Homo sapiens: one gene and its partners. The protein of the gene in region 2 interacts with the protein of the main gene of each other region in a pairwise test. Each region holds a gene or a part of one and is shown on either strand. Other genes may lie near its edges.

Region 1 (3,293 bases), on a different chromosome or scaffold from region 2:
TAGAGATGAGGTTTCACTATGTTGGCCAGGTTGGTCTCTAACTCCTGAGCCTCGGCCTCCCAAAGTGTTGTGAGCCCACCGCACCTGGCCTGGTGTTTTGTTTTTGTTTTTGAGACGGAGTTTCGCTCTTGTTGCCCAGGCTGGAGTGTGCAGTGGTACAATCTCGGCTCACTGCAACCTCCGCCTCTCGGGTTCAAGTGATTCTTCTGCCTGGGCCTCCCGAGTAGCTGGGATTAGAGGCGCCCACCACAATGCCAGGCTAATTTTTTGTATTTTTAGTAGAGATGGGGGTTTCACCATGTTGGCCAGGCTGGTCTCGAACTCCTGATCTCAGGTGACCCGCCTGCCTCGGCCTCCCAAAGTGCTGGGATTACAGGCGTTAGCCACTGTGCCCGGCCAGTGATTTAGTTCTGATTAAGTCCTGCCCCCGGCCCTCCGGACATGTTTCTCATCCCTAAGCCCTCCGCCCAGCCCTCACGTTCTGCCCCGCCCTCTCGTGCTCTGTCCCGCCCTGGCACTCCGCTCTGCCCCTTGCGGTCTATCCCATCCCCTGTGCTCTGTCCACCCCCTACATTCTGCCCCACCCCTGGTGCTCTCTACCCCTTACCCTGTGGTGTGTCTGGTCCTTCTTGCTCTGCCCCGCCACTCATGGTCGCCCCACTCCAGTGCTGTACCCGGCCCCTTTTGCTCTGTCCCAGCCCCTGTGCTGTGCCCTGTCCCTCTTGCTCTGCTCTTCCCCCTGCACAGTGCTCTGCCCCTCTTGCTCTGCCCCGCCCTCCTGTGCTGTGCCCCGCCCCTCCTGCCCTGCCCTACTCACTGCACTGTGCCCAGCCCCTCCTGCTCTGCCCCGCTCCCGCACCGTGACCGCTCCTCTTGCTCTGCCCTTCCCCCTGCACTGTGCCCCGCCCCTCTTGCTCTGCCCCACCCCCTGTGCTCGGCTTGGGCCCCCAACATTCTGCCGGTCCCCTGGTACTCTACTCCTCCCTCCCGACCTCACGCTTCGCAGCTCCCCCAGTGCTCTGCCTGGCCCCTCTAACTGTCCCTCCACCCAGTGCCTTCAATTGCTCAACCTGGGATCCCCGCTCAGTTGACCTTGCTCCCGCAGGCTAGAGCAGGCTGACCTCATTCTGGCCATGCTGGATGCTTCTGACCTGGCCTCTCCCTCCAGTTGCAACTTCCTGGCCACCGTCGTAGCCTCTGTGGGAGCCCAGAGCCCCAGTGACAGCAGCCAGCGCCTCCTCCTGGTGCTGAACAAGTCGGACCTGCTGTCCCCGGAGGGCCCAGGTCCCGGTCCTGACCTGCCCCCGCACCTGCTGCTGTCCTGTCTGACGGGAGAGGGGCTGGACGGCCTCCTGGAGGCGCTGAGGAAGGAGCTAGCTGCAGTGTGAGCCCCCTCCCACTCCCAGCCTCCCCTGACCCACAGTTTAAGTGTGGGTCCCTCAACTTCAATTTCTGAACCTACAAAATGGGTACAACCATTTCCCCTTCAAGGGATGGTTGTAAAAGGTCGGGAGAGACCATGTCTCTTGTCTCTTCCAGGTGTGGGGACCCGTCCACAGATCCCCCGCTGCTGACCCGAGCAAGGCACCAGCACCACCTCCAGGGTTGCCTGGATGCCCTCGGCCACTACAAGCAGTCAAAAGACCTGGCCCTGGCGGCAGAGGCGCTGCGGGTGGCCCGGGGTCACCTGACCCGGCTCACAGGTGGAGGGGGTACCGAGGAGATCCTGGACATCATCTTCCAGGACTTCTGTGTGGGCAAGTGACGGGATCCAGGGAAGTCGCACCCAAGCTGCGTGGAGACCCAGGAGCCTCGGGGGATCTGGAAACAGTTTAGGCCAATTGGGATTCTCATTCGCCTGGGAAAGAACTTGATTCTCAAATAGTGAAGCAACACAGCTGAGAGGTAGTGAGATCCCTGCAGGGACTCCCTGGAGATTCAGGCCCTGGAATGGGGCTGAATGGAGGTCCCGTTCGACCCTTGATGCTGGGGCATCCGGGTTGGGATGGAGATAGGAGGATCTCAGTATATTTGTTTCGTAGTTTTTTATTTATTTTGCAAATACCAAAGGAATGTAAAAAAAACTCAGGTGATCTAGAAGTGTTTATTTTCTTCCCTTCCCTTCCCTTCCCTTTCCTTTTCCCTTTCCCTTTCCCCTTCCCCTTCCCCTTCCCCTTCCCCTACCCTTCCCTCCTCTGTCTATTGCCCAGGCTGGAGTGCAGTGGTGCGACCTTGGCTCACTGCAACCTCCATCTCCGGGGCTCAAGCGCTTCTCCTGCCTCAGCCTCCTGAGTAGCTGGGATTACAGGCATGTGCCAGCATGCCCGGCTAATTTTTTTCTTTTTTTGAGACAGAGTCTCGCTCTGTCACCCAGGCTGGAGTTCAGTGGTGCGACCTCGGCTTACTGCAACCTCCACCTCCCGGGTTCAAGTGATTCTCCTGCCTCAGCCTCTTGAGTAGCTGGGACTACAGGCGCACACCACCACGCCAGGCTAATTTTTGTATTTTTAGTAGAGACAAGGTTTCACCATGTTGACCAGGCTGGTCTTGAACTCCTTGACCTCAGGTAATCTGCCTACCTTGGCCTCCCAAAGTGCTGGGATCACAGGCGTGAGCTATCACACCTGGCCCCAGAAGTGTTTCAACATGGAAATTTTCCTTAGCCCTTCTGTGGTTGTCATGGCTTAATGTGTGTCTTTCCAGAACTTTGAATGTTTGCATACTTGTGGATGTACCTTTCAAATATGTTTGTCTTGTGTATCATATATAAATGGTATTGTGTTCATTGCTCTACAAATTGTCATTTCTTTTTAAAAAAAAAACAGAATTATGGAGATGGGGGGTCTCACTATGTTGCCCAGGCTGGTCTTGAGCTCTTGGACTCAAGCCATCCTGCTGTCTTGGCCTCCCAAAGTGCTGGGATTACAGGTGTGAGCCACGGTGCCTGGCCTCATTCCTTTTTTAGTCTTTAGTCTTCTTTTTTTTTTTTTTTTTTTTTGATGGGGTTTCACTGTGTTAGCCAGGCTGGTCTTGATCTCCTGACCTTGTGATCTGCCCACCTGTGGCCTCCCAAAGTGTGTGTGTGTGTGTGTGTGTGTGTGTGTGTGTGTGTGTGTGTGTGACAGAGTCTTGCTCTGTTGCCCAGACTGAAGTGCAGTGGTGTGATCTCAGCTCACTGCAGCCTCTGCCTCCTGAGCTCAAGCCATTCTCGTGCCTCAGCCTCCCGAGCAGCTGGGATCATAGGTGTACCCTACCACACCTGGCTAACTTTTGTATTTTTAGTAGAGATGGGT
Region 2 (5,480 bases):
CCTTCACAAAGTCCTCACCCTGCATTGTATCAAATAAATGTTTAACCCGAGAAAAGGGAAAAGCCATAGGTTCTCATAAATAAGTCAATGGCATGTTTTCTTTGAAATCACGTAAGCCCAGCAGGTATCTCTCTAAGGAATGCTTGTTTTCCCTGGTTTGACATGTGTATACTACTGTCTTTTTTCAACTCCTTGAAAATAATCTCTCTGAGGAGTAAGTGGTTTTTTCTTTTTGTTACAGTAACATGAAGTGGTTTCCAAATCTCATGAGAAAGAATTAGAGAAAATGATGAAAGATCCAACGGTTCATTAGATATTAAAATTGACTTGATGAGAACTCAATAAGAGACCTTTAAAATCTCTATGTGTGATTAAATTCTTAATAAAAAGAATCTCCCAACATTTTTTAAAGTTGCTCAACTTGTGGCCTAGATGTTGGAGTCTAATAAAAACAAATGTCTTCTAATCCCATGACAGTGCTCCATATGGCTTCTTGATGATAGAGGTTAAATTACTCTTGTTTGCATTTTAACTCTAATTGTTTAACAGATTTCCCCTTTCGAAGAATACAAGAAAGGACATCACCATTTACCGTCTGCCTTAATTTAGTTTGCCTTCAACTATAAGTACATAGGTTAATGATGGCATGGTGGGGTGGTGAACATCAAGCTTAGAACCAATAGAAACTATGATTTGCAGTTCTGTTTTCATTTCTAAAAAAGTCACATCAGCTAACACCCACTGATCAAAACAAATACCTTTTGTTCCTGTTATTACCACCATGAGCTCACCCATGTAAAAAAAACCTGCAGTTGATAAATGTTAAATATTTGCAGGGTTTGTTTTCTCCTTGAGGATATAAAAAGGGTTATCCATAGCATACATTTAAGTTTTTAATTATTGCTGTTATCAGTGGATTCTCTTTGATATAGGTTATTTAACAATAAAAACAATCTTCATATTGTCTGGCCTCAGTTGTCAAAGTGGAAGGTACTCTTTTGGGCCGGAAAAGGTCTTCCTCTCTCTAAGTATGCTGAGTCCCTGGTCAGGTGTGATTTCAATAGGGCAAGCAGAAACAGGCACTAACACGTCCCTTCTGCCGCTGTCTCCCAGTCCATGCCATAGGCAACAGAAATGACTCTTATTTTCTTCAGAGATGAAAACTTCTTAACTGACTTTAGAGAAGATCATTAACTTTCCAAGCCAGTCTTCACTAATCAAAATCATCACTGTCTTCATTACACTTTTTCTTTCTTTCTTTTTTTTTTTGAGACGGAGTCTCGCTCTGTCACCCAGGCTGGAGTGCAGTGGCACGATCTCACTCAGCTCACTGCAAGCTCCGCCTCCTGGGTTCAAGCGATTCTCCTGCCTCAGCCTCCCAAGTAGCTGAGATTACAGGCGCACACCATCACACGTGGCTAATTTTTGTATTTTTAGTAGAAACAGGATTTTGTCATGTTGGCCAGGATGGTCTTGAACTCCTGACCTCATGTGATCTGCCTGCCTCGGCCTCCCAAATTGCTCTCTCTCTTTCTCTTCCTTCCTCTCTCTCTTTCTCAACAAGGTCTTGCTCTGTCACCCAGGCTGGAGTGCAGTGGCATGATCACAGCTCACTGTAACCTTGAACAACTGCTAGGCTCAAGCAATCCTCCCACCTCAGCCCCCTGGTAGCTGAGATTACAGGCATCTACCACTTCAGGCTAATTTTTAAAAATGTATTTGTAAAGACAGTCTCACTATGTTGCCCAGGCTGGTCTCAAACTCTTGGCCTACACGTGACCCTCCCACATCGGCCTCTCAGAGCGCTGGGATTATAGGTGTGAGCCACCATGCCTGACTTTCATGAAAGTTTCTTAGAAGCCCTTGTCATACAGCACCAACAAGCCAAGGGATCTCGTTCTATAGCTTTATCCAATTGTTGCCTCTTCTCCTTATCATCATTAAACAGATGCTTTGGCTACCACATGCAGAATTTTCATCCCCTAGGCCATGGCTGCAAGCATTGCTATCCTATCTTTGGTGGCTTCCTGGCAAATTTCACATTACTCCCTATCTTTCTATCACTCCACCTATGTTTTTCTCATATCTTTTTCCTCCAGTACATCATTAACAAAATCCCTTTTGTTTTTGCAAGATATTTCTTAGCTATCATGCAAGCTCTCTTCTGACTCTTCTTTCTGTCTTTCCTCAGAAGCTCCTTCTACCTGAATTGCCTTTCCTTCCTCAAAAAATTATTCCCAGGTTTGTAGCTGATCTTCGACAAAGCATATAACAACACAAATTGGGGAAAGGACATCCTATGTAACAAATGGTTCTGGGAAAACTGGCTAGCCACCTGTAGAAGAATAAAACTAGATCCCTATCTCTCACCTTATACAAAAATCAACTCAAGATGGATATAAGACTTGAAATCTTCAAAATTCTAAAAGAAAACCTAGGAAAAACTCTTCCAGACATTGGCCTAGGCAATTTTTATTTTGAGATGGAGTCTCGCTCTGTTGCCCAGGCTAGAGTGCAGTGGTGCGATTTCAGCTCACTGCAACCTCTGCCTCCTGGGTTCAAGCGATTCTCCTGTCTCAGCCTCCCGAGTAGCTGGGACTATAGGTGTGCGCCACCACGCCCAGCTAATTTGTGTATTTTTATTAGAGACAGGGTTTCACCATGTTGGCCAGGATGGTCTCGATCTCTTGACCTTGTGATCTGCCTGCCTCGGTCTCCCAAAGTGCTGGGATTACAGGCGTGAGCCACCGTGCCCGGCCTAGGCAAAAAATTTATGACTAAGATCCCAAAAGTAAATGCAACAATAACAAAAATAAATAAATCGGATCTAATTAAACTAAAAACTTCCGTACAGCAAAAGAAATAATCAGAGTAAACAGACAACCCATGGAATGGGAGAAAGTATTTGCAAACTATGTATCTAACAAAGGACTAATATCCAGAATCTACAAGGTGCTCAAACAAATCAGAAAGAAAAAAACAATCCCATCAAAAAGTGGGCAAATGACATGAATAGACATTTCTCAATGGGATTTGAGAAGATATACAAATGGCTAACAAACATATGAAAAAATGCTCAAAATCACTAATCATCAGGGAAATGCAAGTCAAAATGGTGAGCTACCACCTCACCCCAGCCAGAATGGCCACTATTAAAAAGTCAAAAGACAATAGATGTTGGCACGGATGTGGTAAAAAGAGAATCCTTATACACTGCTGATGGGAATGTAAATCAGTACAACCTCTATGGAAAACATATGGAGATTTCTCAAAGAACTAAGAGTAAATCTACCATTTGATCCAGCAATCCCACTACGAGGTGTTTACCCAAAGGAAAAGAAGTCGTTATATCAAAAAGATACCTGCACGCATGTTTCATAATTCATAATTGCAAAGATATGGAACCAACCTAAGTGCCCATCGAGCAATGAGTAGATAAAGAAAATATGGAATATATACACCATAGAACACTACTCAGCCATAAGAAATAATAAAATAATGTCTTCTGCAGCAACTTAGATGGAGCTGGAGGCCATTATCCTCTAAGTGAAGTAACTCAGGAATGGAAAACAAAATGCCATACGTTCTCACTTATAAGTGGGAGCTAAGCTATGGGTACACAAAGGTATACAAAGTGGTATATTGGCCGGGCACGGTGGCTCACACCTGTAATCCCAGCACTCTGGGAGGCCGAGGTGGGTGGATCACGAAGTCAGGAGTTCGAGACCACTCTGACCAACATGGTGAAACTCTCTATCTACTGAAAATACAAAAATGAGCCAGGCGTGGTGGTGGGCGACTGTAATCCCAGCTACTCAGGAGGCTGAGGCAGCAGAATTGCTTGAACCCGTGAGGCGGAGGTTGCAGTGAGTCGAGATCGTGCCACTGCATTCCAGCCTGGGCAACAGAATGAGACTCCGTCTCAAAAAAAAAAAACAAAACAACAACCAAAAAAAAAACAAAACACAAAGTGGTATACTGGACTTTGGAGATTCAGAAGTGGGGAGGTTTGGAGAGGGGTGAGGGATAAAAAACTACACATTGGGTACAATGTCCACTACTTGGGTGATGGGTGCACTAAAATCTCAGACTTCACCACTATACAATTAATCCATGTAGCCAAAAACCGCTTGTACACCAAAAGCTATTGAAATAAAAAAATTAGGGCCAAGCGCGGTGGCACACGCCTGTAATCCCAGCACTTCAGGAGGCCAAGGTAAGCCTTATTCCCAGGTTTGGCTTTGTGAAACATGGATGAATCTCATGGTTGTTCCACAATAAAAGGATATTACAATTCTAAAGACTGCCCCTCACCGCCCTAGACTGATATTTCTTTTTCCCCTAGCATGGGACAATTTGAATCTCTTTCCTGTGTTTGGAATCTCTCTAGATACTTATACTATGGCCGCAGGACAGGGTACTGAAAATGTGTTCAGGAAATATTTTTAAAATAAAATGGCTAACAAGAGGCAGAATGAATCTTATGTCAATATGCTCCCATTCTCAACAATCAATCTATTTATGTAAGTTTTTCAAACTCCAGCATCAGAAATCCACATGTAGCCCTGGGGCCATCACATTTTCTTGCAGGATGGCATAAGGTTTAACACTTTTGAGTTATTTGAATATACGGGCAACCAACAGTAGGCAAGAGGGTTCTACAGAATGCCAAGAAATCAAACACAGAATTTAGATGAACTGGGCAGAGGCAGGAAGTGACAAAAACTGTTTTAAGAGCTGTTCGGGTAGTCACGGCGGCTCATGCCTGTAATCCCAGCACTTTGGGATGCCGAGGCAGGTGGATCACCTGAGGTCAGGCATTCGAGACCAGCCTAGCCAACATGGTGAAATGAAACCCCATCTCTACTAAAAATACAAAAAATTAGCCGGGCATTGTGCCAGGCGCCTGTAATCCCAGCTACTCGGTAGGCTGAGGCAGGAAAATCGCTTGAACCCGGGAGGTGGAGGTTGCCATGAGCTAAGATCACGCCACTGCACTCCAGCCTGGGCAACAAGAGTGAAAGTCTCAAAAAATTAAAAATAAAAATAAAAAAAGATCTGTTCAAGGAAAAGGGGGCTGCTTCCCAACAGCCGGCTTGAAACATCCCTTGGAATTATATCTGACAGATACGTGTGACAGGAATAACAACAACACAAAAGAATAGGAAACCAAGTTTGATGTAACAGAACTTCAATATGCTTCCCTAGAGCCGTCAAACTTACCTAGAGATGCTAAATACACTTCTGAATCCTGCAAGGGAGCCCAAGGCTTTACAGCTGGCTGGACAGCAAAGTCAGCCACCTCCCTCTGGCCTTCACCTTCAGGGCAAGAATCCACAAAGGAGTCTGAGAATGCATTGTTGGCACCATCTTCTTGTTCAGGATTTGGCAGACAGGAACAAATTTCAGCCCAGAGATCCTGGCCAGATCTTGTGGCTGTAGAGTCAGCGCTCTCAAACATTTTCATTTGGAATCTGAGC
Region 3 (5,480 bases), on a different chromosome or scaffold from region 2:
TTCTAAAATCCTGGCTCAAAGTCCGTGGGTTTCCTGTTTAAAAGGGGCGCCATGAAAATGTAAGCTATTCCCTTTTTCCTGGAATCTTTAAGAGTCCCAGCTTTTCAATAGTCAAAATGTAGATGATTGATATCATTTCTTATATGAATAGCACTGGTTTGTAGTTCAGCACGCACAGTGAGCTGGGCACGCCCACCTGATAGTATAGCAGAGAACTTGTTTACATTCTTTTTACATTCATCTTCTAAAACCTGGGGTGCTCTCTCTCTCTCTCTCTCTCTCTCTCTCTCTGTGTGTGTGTGTGTGTGTGTGCGTGCACGTGCGCGTGTGTGTAGAGGGGGAGAGAGAGAGAGAGAGAACTGTGAACTGTGAAATATAACACAGCCAGCAGCTTTGGGTCTCAATCGTAGACTTACTCTTAAGGAAATTTACAGAATGGAAAGGTCATGTTCAAGTAGTTTATTAACATTTTGAGATGTAGGAAATTAATCCCGGAGTACAGAAGAACAATTTCAGACTTCCTGAATAAAAACAGACAGCATAGAGAGTGGATGATAGCTAAACTCTGAATATCTTTTGAGAAGAAAGGCACTCCCATTTCAGGTGCCCATAATATGGATTTGATTTTAGTGATTAAAACATTAATTTTCAACTTGCATCTCCCTGTGTGGAAGAGTTCAATTTGTGTGAGGGGTCTCGCCTATCCAACAAAAGTGAATATGTCCCTTTTATAGGGTAATTGCTAACTTGTCTCAACTTGTTTTCAAACAATTGTTATAGAGCACTCAGTTTCCACTAATTGCAAAATTGTTGCTTAATTGAAGGACTCTCAGCCATCTAGTGCAGCCATTCAGCCACTGGCAGGCTCTGTGATCTCAAACTGTGAATTGCATTTTAAAGAGGAATCGAGGAGAGAATTCTGTGGAATTCTAGGTTTTAAGTGCTGGCTGTTGTTCAATGGAAGAGGAAATCATTTGAACAAGAATCGCATCAAGTTGTGTTGTGATAAATTTTCTTTATTAGGATGAATAACATGCACAGATGAGCTTCAAAAGTGAATGAGCAAACTTACTGGTTACACTCTGCATCCATTTACTCTGTTTAGTATGGAGTAATGTTAGGCAATAAATGATGCTGGCAAATGAAATCCGTATGTTATTTGCATGTGGTATTTAAACCTAGGAAACATAGAGTGGCTTTGGTATTTGTAGGCTTAGTCATGTGTGTCCTAAACGTCCTCTTAAACTTCTACTTAAGGCATAGAATTATTTAATCCTAAATAATTTTATACTTAAGTGCCTCACTGGATTTCCAGAATATTTACACTGTAAAGATTTAGAAAGGTCATGAACCCAATTATTGACTATATGGAATCATTATTGATGGCAGATGCAAAATGGAGCTCACTAATGTACTGACATTGAAAACCTTTTGCAGGGGAGAGGAGGGGGAGTGGTAAATGTGTGTGTTCTTTAAGTGGAACAGGAAGGTATTCTCTTTTCTGTAGAAAAATTTGAGTATCTGGTCAGATAAGTGTGGAAGCTTTCATTTAAATTAAGTATTTAAGTTCAAGTAGAAGCTCTAGGGCACTTATCCTCTTGATGAGACAAATCTTATCAAATATACTAGATGCTAAGAAGTGGCTCATTGCCCTGATGTCTCATTTATAGATTGATGTTTGAGGATGGGTTGCATTAAGTGAGTTAGGGGGCTGAGTGTGGGACAGGAGAACGATTGGAAGGAAGCAAAGTAAATTTACAAGCTTTAGTGACAGCCATAATAAAGTAAAAGTTTATTTCCAGAGAGCCTAGAGAGTAAGGAACGTTATATAGTTTTCCCCAAAGGTTCACTTGAAAGAACTTTTCATTGGTTGTCATGGTAGTAATGTCCTGATTTTGAAATCTCCCAGAACCTAGTAGCTCTTAAACATGCTTTCATCTTGGTTCCTTTGGTCTGACGGAAACTTTATGACGACCCTCTGTGTTTTTGACATGCCTCTGCATTTTTGGAGAGAGGAGGTCAGGCAAGGGAGGATTTCTTAAAACTAAGACAGTATAGTAAGGAAACATAAAATTATATGATAAAAAATCACTGAACTTCAAATTGACTTACTGAAATAAAACCTAGAAGGCAACCTGTCGTTTAATTACAACTAGCTTGTATAAAATTAAAATTTATAAAATGGGAATTCAAAGAAAATAAACGGGCAGTTCCAAGTAATTTAAGCAACTCACCAAAAATTGAAGTAATAGTGCCACCTAGAGAACAAAATCACCAGCTTTACTAGCCAAATGGCTTATTTCCATATGAACCATTTTTCCAACGCTACAGTTACTAGGATTTCCTTGTTACCATATTCAGATCTTGTGAGTGTGTATGGGGGTGGGGGTTGCATGTGGAATTACAGATGAAATTTTAAAACAAGCAGATCCACAATTTGATATATGCACTAAATCCTTTTAACGTTGTAATGTAGCCAAATGTAGAATAGCATGCCAGGAATCAACGGCTAGCATCCTTTTTAACATTTATTATTTTCATGGATATGTACCAAACCGAACCATTGAGTATAAAGGTTCTGATTTTATTTATTTGCTACAGGCAATTCATTATACTTTCTGAGATACAATAACACCAAATAATTTGAGTAGAGAGACCTTTAAGAATGTTTTCGATTTATGATCTACCTTTAACTTTAATGTACTCAGAAGATGTGAGAATAAAATAAAGTCAAATATAAGCAAGATTTTAAACACACACACAAAAAACAAACAAACAAGAAAAAGGAAGAAAATTATAAGGATTGCCTTAACCTTAGAATAGATGAAGGTATACATCTGAGCCAGCACCAAAAAAAAAAAAAAAAAAAGTTATGGAACCAGGAACCAATAATTACAAATTGACTTAAAATTCTTGGATGACAAAAATCTATATTTAGTTCATTTTTGCATGCGCCCACAACAGCATCCAAAACAGTTCTGGGGAGGCACTTTGATAAATGTTGCTGAATGCACTAATAGATTGATTAATGGCTGCTTCAGATTATCACTAGTGATGTAGACAGAAACTTCATGAAAATGGTTTGTCTTGCTGGAAGAAAGGCAGAAATTGGAGGAAAAGGTTTAATAATATTTTTCCCCAGTACCTATTATAAAAGTCATTTAGTTGGCTTAGTTCTATAATTTCTTATGTGTAATTTGATTCACTTATGAAATTGTGAATATATGAAATGTTAAAGTTGATTTAGACAGCAACTATAAGCTTGTGGATTTTCTTTTAAATGTCTTCAAATTTTTAAATGCCAGTGGAGATGCCAGCGACTGTGCTTCAGGGAGTAGAATATAGTATATCTTAAATTTGTGCCAATTTCTGGTAAGCAGAGAAAAAATTGCATGATAACCAAAGAAAGTCATATTGTTTGTGCTTTGTGTTATTCATGGAAGCAATCAGGTGCAGAAAACTTTCTTTTTCAGAAAAAAAAAATTACTAAAATAAAGGTGCGTGTGTGTGTATGCACATATATCTAAAGGGAGAGAGGGAGAAGGAAACTTACTAAATAAAATTTTTGCCACATGGGATTTAGTCTAATCAGTCTTGGTTTTGGAGTTGCTATCATCAGTAGTTCCATTTTGTGATTCTTTCTTTCTGCCTTCATGTGCCTTTGAAAACTGAAACTATGCCCAAATTAAAACAAGTTTTTCTGTCTTTTCACATGTTCACTTATTTCTTGAATGTGTTTTTAAACACAGACAAACTTCTTTTACATCATGTAGAATCTGAAGGTCGAGAAATTTGCAGTCATTTTGCTGGAGAGAGATGCTTGGCGGAGTCCCAGGCCACATTCCTAGGCCAAACTCTCGAAGGTATTCCTCTTATGCAACATTGGGAAAATACATCCAGCACCGACATGTTGGCTGATAATGTGTCTGAAGGCACAGACGATATGCTTATCATATGAAACATAAAGCCAGCAGATATTGCAGACATTCTGTTGAATGATAGAATCTGGATCATTTACATTTACTTAAATGTAAAATACTATGATTAAGTACAAAAAAATCAATTTAGGAGAGAATAGAGAGTTGCGGGCACGGTTTTAGGGGATGACTTATCAGCAGATTGTAGAAAGGAAGCTTGAATGTTTTAAATTAACTGCAAGTTCAGTATAAGCCAGTGGTGTGACAAGAGGCTGTTATCATAGCTACTGAAATTTTGGGCTGCACTGCTAGAAATATAATACTGAAATGGAGAAGCTAATAATTCTTCACTTTTTAAATAGACTGTATCTAGAATATTATCATCAGTTCAAGGAAATGAAATAAGTTGTTTTAGGTACATCATCGATAAATTAGTGTACATTCAAATCACTGTGACCAGGATGCATAGGGAATTTGAAAGCATTGCATGTGAGCAATGGTTGAGGGGACTTGGAATGCATGACTTAGGGACAAGAAAACTTAGGCTGGAATGGCAAGTGGTTTTTGAATGTTGGGTTGAGAAGAATTCTAAAACTGTGAAGGATTAGTAAAAATAACATTCAGATTGCTAATGCCTACTGTGGCTGGGAGATTAGAGTGTCAACATGTGTGATGTATTTTTGACATCCTTATTTTGAGGATGGGCTTCAAAGATTTGACGAACTGTCATAAGTGTAATTTGTGTTGCTTCAGACAGCAGTTCTAGAACCAATGATGTAAATTTAGATACTCTACATGGTAGTTAGAAAACTTTCCATTAATTTAATTTAGCAAATATTGAATGCTCACTGCATACAGAGCACTTTATTAGAGGAATATATAATAAAGAAAAAAGAGGTCTGGTGTGGTGGCTCATGCCTGTAATCCCAGCACTCTGGGAGGCTGAGGTGGGAGGATCACTTGAGCCCAGGAGATCATTACGAGTCTGGACAACATAGCAAGACCCCATCTTTACAAAAGACAAAAAAAATTATCCAAGCCTGGTGACAGGCACTTGTAGTCCCAGCTACTTGGGAGGCTGAGGCAGTAGGATCGTTTGAGCCCAGGAGGTTGGGGCTGCAGTGAGCCGTGATTGTCCCACTGCTCTTCAGCCTGGGTGACAGAGTGAGACCCCGTTGGAGGGAAGGAAGGGAAGGAAGGAAGAAAGGTAGGAAGGCTGAAATGAAACCCTTTTAGAAATGACACTAAAATGGGAGGTTGGAGTAAGGTATTTTCTGAAGTGCCTTTGTACTTGTTTTTTTCTAATGCATTGGCCATAAGTCTGCTCCTTATTTATAGTCCATAAACAATCCTAATGAGAACAGTTATATATTTCTGCCTTTGAATCATCTACTTGAAGTGTTTAGCATCATGAATTGAGTATCAGAAATCCCTCCCATTTCTTTGCAAAGCGCTGTATTTTACTTTTCCTTATTTGTATACAGATTCTCAAAATTGGCTATTTTTCCTTTGGGTTAGACAGAACAGAATGTCTGGAAAAAAAAGTTCTTATCAAATTCAGGT
Region 4 (5,480 bases), about 20 Mb from region 2:
ATACTGAGTAACGATTAACAACTTGTATTTCCATAGGTGTGGATGAGGTCACCATTGTCAACATTTTGACCAACCGCAGCAATGCACAGAGACAGGATATTGCCTTCGCCTACCAGAGAAGGACCAAAAAGGTACAGGCAATTCCAGGGATGGAGGGCATTTCTTGTTGAATTTTTGTTTCCTCAGACATTGCTTTTTCTTTTCATGAATTGTGGCTCTCATGCGCAAAAGACTTGTGGGACCCTTGGATATCTAAGATTTTCTTCTTAAATCCTTGTAAGAGTCACTGCACATGTGTGTGTGCGTGTGTGCACGCGCGCGTGCACCTCAGGTCATCAGGCATTAGGTTCTCATAAGGAGTGTACAACATAGATCCCTCGCGTGTGCAGTTCACAGTAGGGTTCGCGCTTCTGTGAGAATCTCATGCCACCGTTGATCTGAGAGGAGGCAGAGCGCAGATGGTCACGCTCGCTTTAGAGTGCTTGGGAGCTCCTGTGTAAGGACAGTACCCTCCCCCAACCCAGGCTACCTGGAGGGAGAGCTTCTGGGAATAGAAAGTTAGGAATAGGGAACAACAACAATAACAACAACAGGCACCATTTATTGAGTGCTTACTTTGGGCCAGGCACTGTGCTCAGTTTTGTACATGTAGCAACTCATTTCATCTTTATGACTTCTGCTGGTTCTTGATAAGATGTTTCTAATTTAATTTTAGGATACTAGCCTCCACTGAGTGTTGATCCTAACAAGCTCCTCTCATTTTAAAAATATACACTTGAATTCTTAAGCTTTTTGCAACGAGTGGGCTTAGTTGTTAGTTCATTTGGTCTGCAAAGCTATCTTCAACATGCCATGCTCCTACTATTTAAAGGGTCTTTGTGTGCTTTTTCCCTTTGCTTGTCCACTAGTGGTTAAGAAACAACCAGTGCGTGTTCGTCCTTTATTTTGTCAGTTGTAGGAAATTTTATTTTTAAGGACGTGCTGCTTTATTTTTAACTTCTTGCTATTAAAAGCTTTTGATTTATTCTTGGACAGTGCAGTAAGTGTGGCTTCCTGCAGCTCCCGTTTGACTTATGGCTTTCACTTGTAGCCACAGTGGAGGTGAGCTGGAAGGATTCTAGAAGAGATATTTCTGCCCTTGGGATTGACATGACCAGCAGGGTCCTGGGAGTTGCAGGTCAAGCCTTGCTACACTTCCATCCCCCGCACTCTAAATGGTTGGAAAGGACATAAATAGGAAAGCATCTGGCTTCTTTCATCTCAAGTGCATTAAAATTCTTCTTTCACTAGAAGTGTATTAATCTTGTGTAGTGAGGCATAGAGGGGAGTGTTTTATTTCTGCAGCTTCCCAAAGGGGTCTGTGAGCTGGTAGAGCCAAGTTCCCAGTGGAGCAGAAGGCTCATCTCTGGATAGCAAGCAAAAAATTTGATCTTTCAGCTGTCACAGAGTATGGTCTTGGAATACATTTGGGTGTGTACACACACACATAGAAGCCTGAAACTTTTTTTTTTTTTTTTTTTTTTTTTTTTTGTGACAGGGTCTTGCTCTGTCACCCAGGCTTGATTGCAGTGGTGTGATTCGGCTTACTGCAACTTCTGCCATGTGGACTCAAATGATTCATCTCAGCCTCCCAAACTGCTGGGATTACAGTCATAAGCCACCACACCCAAAACCTAGATCTTGGTTTTAGATTAGATATATGTAGAACAAAGCTCCCACATACCCTCTAGGAGGGAAGATATTACCAGAATTATGATGAGGTCCCAAGATCTCACAGGCTTTGCTGTGTGCTGGGGACAGCTCATCATCCTACTAATTCTTGACTCTCAGCCTTAGGCCAAGGAGAATTATGTATCTTTTATAAAAGATATGTAAACTACTTGAGATAGTTTCAAGTGAAACAATCGGCTGTTTGTGAAATAAAGAAGAAAATTTGTGAAATAAGGAAGATTTGTGCTGCAGAGTTCTTTAGGGATACGGGCTGCAGCTGCCCAGGTGATGAGCTTGAAGAACCTAGGCCCGGCTGGCAGAGTGGAGAGGAGCTGGGAGAGACAGCTGCTTTTACGACTCTTTCATGTTCTAGCAGACGCCAGATGCGAGGCTTCTCCTTACAGGGAAGGGTTATGTTTGATTTATCATACATTTCTGGAGTTTTTGTTTAGTTTTTGTTAAATGCAAAGCTCTGTGCTGGACATTGTGAGAAACAGGAAGTTGAACGCCCATAAGGAGTTTAGAATAGAAGTGGAAGAAGTCAGTAGGTGCCCAAATGCTATTTGAGGTTTGAATAGAGAATGGGTAGAGGGGAGTGTCAAGGGTAGGCTAAGTTTGGAGTTACCTAACCTCAAAGTTCCAAACTGGGAGACTGGTGTTATAATTGGGAGCTACTGCTTTTACAGTCCCCTCCTAAGTGCCGTGTGTTCCCGGGACATTGGGAAGCAGGAGAAAATGGGTGGTGAAAGCCAGGTGGCTTCTAAGATCCATGTCAGTTCTAACACTTTTGACATCTACGAATGATTCAGCATGGTTGTCTCTGAAGCATGCTGCAAATCACCTCTCGTAGCCTGCAAGTACCTGTAGGGGCTAAGCTTTGTAGATGCCACAGGTGCTCTTAGAAAGCAAGGAAAGAAAGAAGAGAGAGAAGAAAAAAAAAAAAGCGAAAAGAAGAACATTATTTCAGTAGGAGGCTTCAGTCATCAGCCATGATTTGTAGGAAGTTTAGCTCGAGGAAGCATCGCTAAAAGACACATTGAGTTGGGGTGTCTGTCTACATACATGGGTGCTGACCAGACCTCTGACAAATTTTTGTGTTCATGGTGACAGTGGATCCAACCCTTAAGAAATTACATGCAGCAGGGAATTCAAGGGGGCCAGTTCGGGGGTGTTAGTTTCCTATCACTTCCATTAAACACCGTCCGAGTTTGGTGTGGACAAGGAGATATTTTCTCAGTATTAGATGAAGTGTTTTGCATAGGAAAGTTTCATGACCTCACTTCCAACTGTGTTGCGGCCTCTGGTTCCTTCTGGTGACTTTGAGGAGCTGCCGCTGGAATGGCTGCCCCCACGTCTTTTACAGTATATCGGGAGGCCACAAGATCTGCTTGCCAGGAGGCTGTCTGCTCAAACATCTCCTTCTTAGCAGGGGCCTTGATCTCCGAAAGCGTCCTGCCTTCCACGGAGTGTTACTGCTTTCAAGCATATTGCAAAGTGCCTGCACTCTCACAGCTTTCTTAGGAATCACATACGACTCCAGTTTCCTTTTATTGACCGGGGAAGACGGCAAAATTAACTTGGATTTTAAGGAATTTCGTTGAAGCAAAGCCTGATGTTTATGTTTCTGAGATGTGGGTCTGTTGAAGGGAATGCAGTTGAGGGCGTTTGACCCAAGACTCCGGAGTGGTCAAAGACTCACAACCTGCTTCACAAAAAGATCCCTCTTACTTTTGTTTTACTCACTAGTTTTAAAGTAAAATAAATATTTTCCTTATGATTGCCTGTTATCTTGAAGGAACTTGCATCAGCACTGAAGTCAGCCTTATCTGGCCACCTGGAGACGGTGATTTTGGGCCTATTGAAGACACCTGCTCAGTATGACGCTTCTGAGCTAAAAGCTTCCATGAAGGTAAATGCATGTGAGATGTCATCTCTGTCAAATCTGCTATTAATTTTGTGAATTACAGCTTTCTGAGTGTAATTTGGTGATTTTCAGTTTTGTTGAATTCTCATTTGGAACCATTTTTTAAAAATGAACTGAAGTTATATGTCTCAGGATTTGTACCAAAAATATTTCAATTACTTGTTTTAAGACTGTAAAGAAATTTCATGATGCTGAGAAGTCAGTTACCAGCTGCTACTACTCAGCACCTGGGCAATTGGAATACCATTTGGGAAAACTACTTCCTTGATTACACTTCCTCCTTTAAAAAGATATGTTGTGATATTAAGGCAAGAAAAAAAAACTCATAGCTTTTGTTAAGTGAAGCTTGCAAATTCTGCCCATCCTTTCGTGGGTGTTTCTTCCTCCCATACTCTCTCTGTCAGTACCATTTGTTTCAAATTCAGGCAGAATCAGAACATCATAGTGCATATAAGGGGTAATTCTGGATGAAGAATCGTACCTGAATCGTACCTGTGAGAAAGTAACTGTGAAGTCTCAATGCACGTTATCTTTTATGTTTTTCTTTTGTAAAGTTCTTTTGAACCTGGAATTTTAGGTTAAATTAAGTAAAAACTGTAGATTGGAAACCTCCTGAACTTTGTGCATACTTAAAATATCAAGTTTTTTGTTTTGTTTTGTTTTGTTTTTTGAGATGGATTTCGCTCTTGTTGCCCAGGCTGGAGTGCAATGGCGCGATCTCAGTTCACTGCAACCTCTGCCTCCCGGGTTCAAGAGATTCTCCTGCCTCAGCATCCCGAGTAGCTGGGATTACAGGCATGCGCCACTACGCCCAGCTAATTTTGTATTTTTAGTAGAGACGGGATTTCTCCATGTTGGTCAGGCTGGTCTCAAACTCCCGACCTCAGGTGATCTGCCCACCTTGGCCTCCCAAAGTGCTAGGATTACAGGCGTGAGCCACCGCGCCTGGCCAACATCAAGTTTTATATAAATGCAATAGATGCACACACATTAATGTATGTTGTACTGCAACACATTTGGACCCTTTTCTTAGTGTGGGTCTGCAGCATTTGAACAGTCCGACACTGCCCTCTGCTGATATACATGGGTAAAGTCTGCGCTGTAGATGAGGGAAACCATTGGTCTTGATTTTTTATTCCGAGTCTGTTTTCTCTGATGCCACTGTTCCTGAATTATGAACAGTCTGAGCTGTAAGCCTGTCACCAGAGCTAATGTCACAGTTCAGTTGTCATCCTTTTCCCAGAGAACACAAGAGTGAGGGTGCTTCGGACACTGGGCATCTCCAAAGCCTGGAATTTGATAGCTCAGGGCTGCTGTAAGATTTGTTGTTAAGTCTCTTTCTTCCTTTAGTTCTTCAGCTTAGCCCAAGCTGTGCTCAGTTTATTTTAGCGGACTTGTCTGAGTTTCCTAAGTAGACTGTACTGCAGAAAAGACGTCATTAAGAATGATAAAATGTCGACAACATTTCATGATCCTGGTTGATAAAAATAGCGCTCCTGAAAACCGAGTCTGTGGACCTTTGGAGGCAGGGATGAGTCAGCCTCTCCTAGGTTTCTTCTGACCATCAACACTTCAGATCAGTTTGTCTTATTTTCATCAAGAATCTATTTAGTTGTGATTCGAGTGGCTTTACTGGTATCTATTACTAGGTATTAGGGACTTGAAACAGACCTTTTTGAGCTGTCAGTCACTGTTGTAATCTATGTAATTGGGCCCAATGGAAGGTGCTTTAACTGCTGAAGCTTTGACCCTGTGCCAGCTCTTCCATTAGCTATCACAGTTGAATACCCGTCCAAAATCCATAAAGCTTGAAGTGACATTAACTGAACTATGCTTAAAAAAAAAT

Evidence for each region.
Region 1: the proteins of CCDC32 (region 2) and GTPBP3 interact in binary tests that used the Homo sapiens proteins (3 or more experiments, as listed by UniProt).
Region 3: the proteins of CCDC32 (region 2) and BDNF interact in binary tests that used the Homo sapiens proteins (3 or more experiments, as listed by UniProt).
Region 4: the proteins of CCDC32 (region 2) and ANXA2 interact in a two-hybrid assay, tested with the Homo sapiens proteins (one study listed by BioGRID).

What each region holds. Positions count from the first base shown.
Region 1 is NC_000019.10:17,339,939-17,343,231, forward strand, and holds the end of GTPBP3 (5-taurinomethyluridine-[tRNA] synthase subunit GTPB3, mitochondrial), read left to right. Parts: intron 1-1,105; coding exon 1,106-1,384; intron 1,385-1,539; coding exon 1,540-1,765; 3' UTR 1,766-2,793; downstream 2,794-3,293. UniProt on the Homo sapiens protein: GTPase component of the GTPBP3-MTO1 complex that catalyzes the 5-taurinomethyluridine (taum(5)U) modification at the 34th wobble position (U34) of mitochondrial tRNAs (mt-tRNAs), which plays a role in mt-tRNA decoding and mitochondrial translation.
Region 2 is NC_000015.10:40,557,549-40,563,028, forward strand, and holds part of CCDC32 (coiled-coil domain-containing protein 32), read right to left. Parts: intron 5,480-5,480; 5' UTR 5,468-5,479; coding exon 5,224-5,467; intron 1-5,223. UniProt on the Homo sapiens protein: Regulates clathrin-mediated endocytsois of cargos such as transferrin probably through the association and modulation of adaptor protein complex 2 (AP-2). Has a role in ciliogenesis. Required for proper cephalic and left/right axis development.
Region 3 is NC_000011.10:27,691,976-27,697,455, reverse strand, and holds part of BDNF (neurotrophic factor BDNF precursor form isoform a preproprotein), read left to right. Parts: intron 1-5,480. UniProt on the Homo sapiens protein: Important signaling molecule that activates signaling cascades downstream of NTRK2. During development, promotes the survival and differentiation of selected neuronal populations of the peripheral and central nervous systems.
Region 4 is NC_000015.10:60,359,080-60,364,559, reverse strand, and holds part of ANXA2 (annexin A2), read left to right. Parts: intron 1-36; coding exon 37-131; intron 132-3,505; coding exon 3,506-3,619; intron 3,620-5,480. UniProt on the Homo sapiens protein: Calcium-regulated membrane-binding protein whose affinity for calcium is greatly enhanced by anionic phospholipids. It binds two calcium ions with high affinity. May be involved in heat-stress response.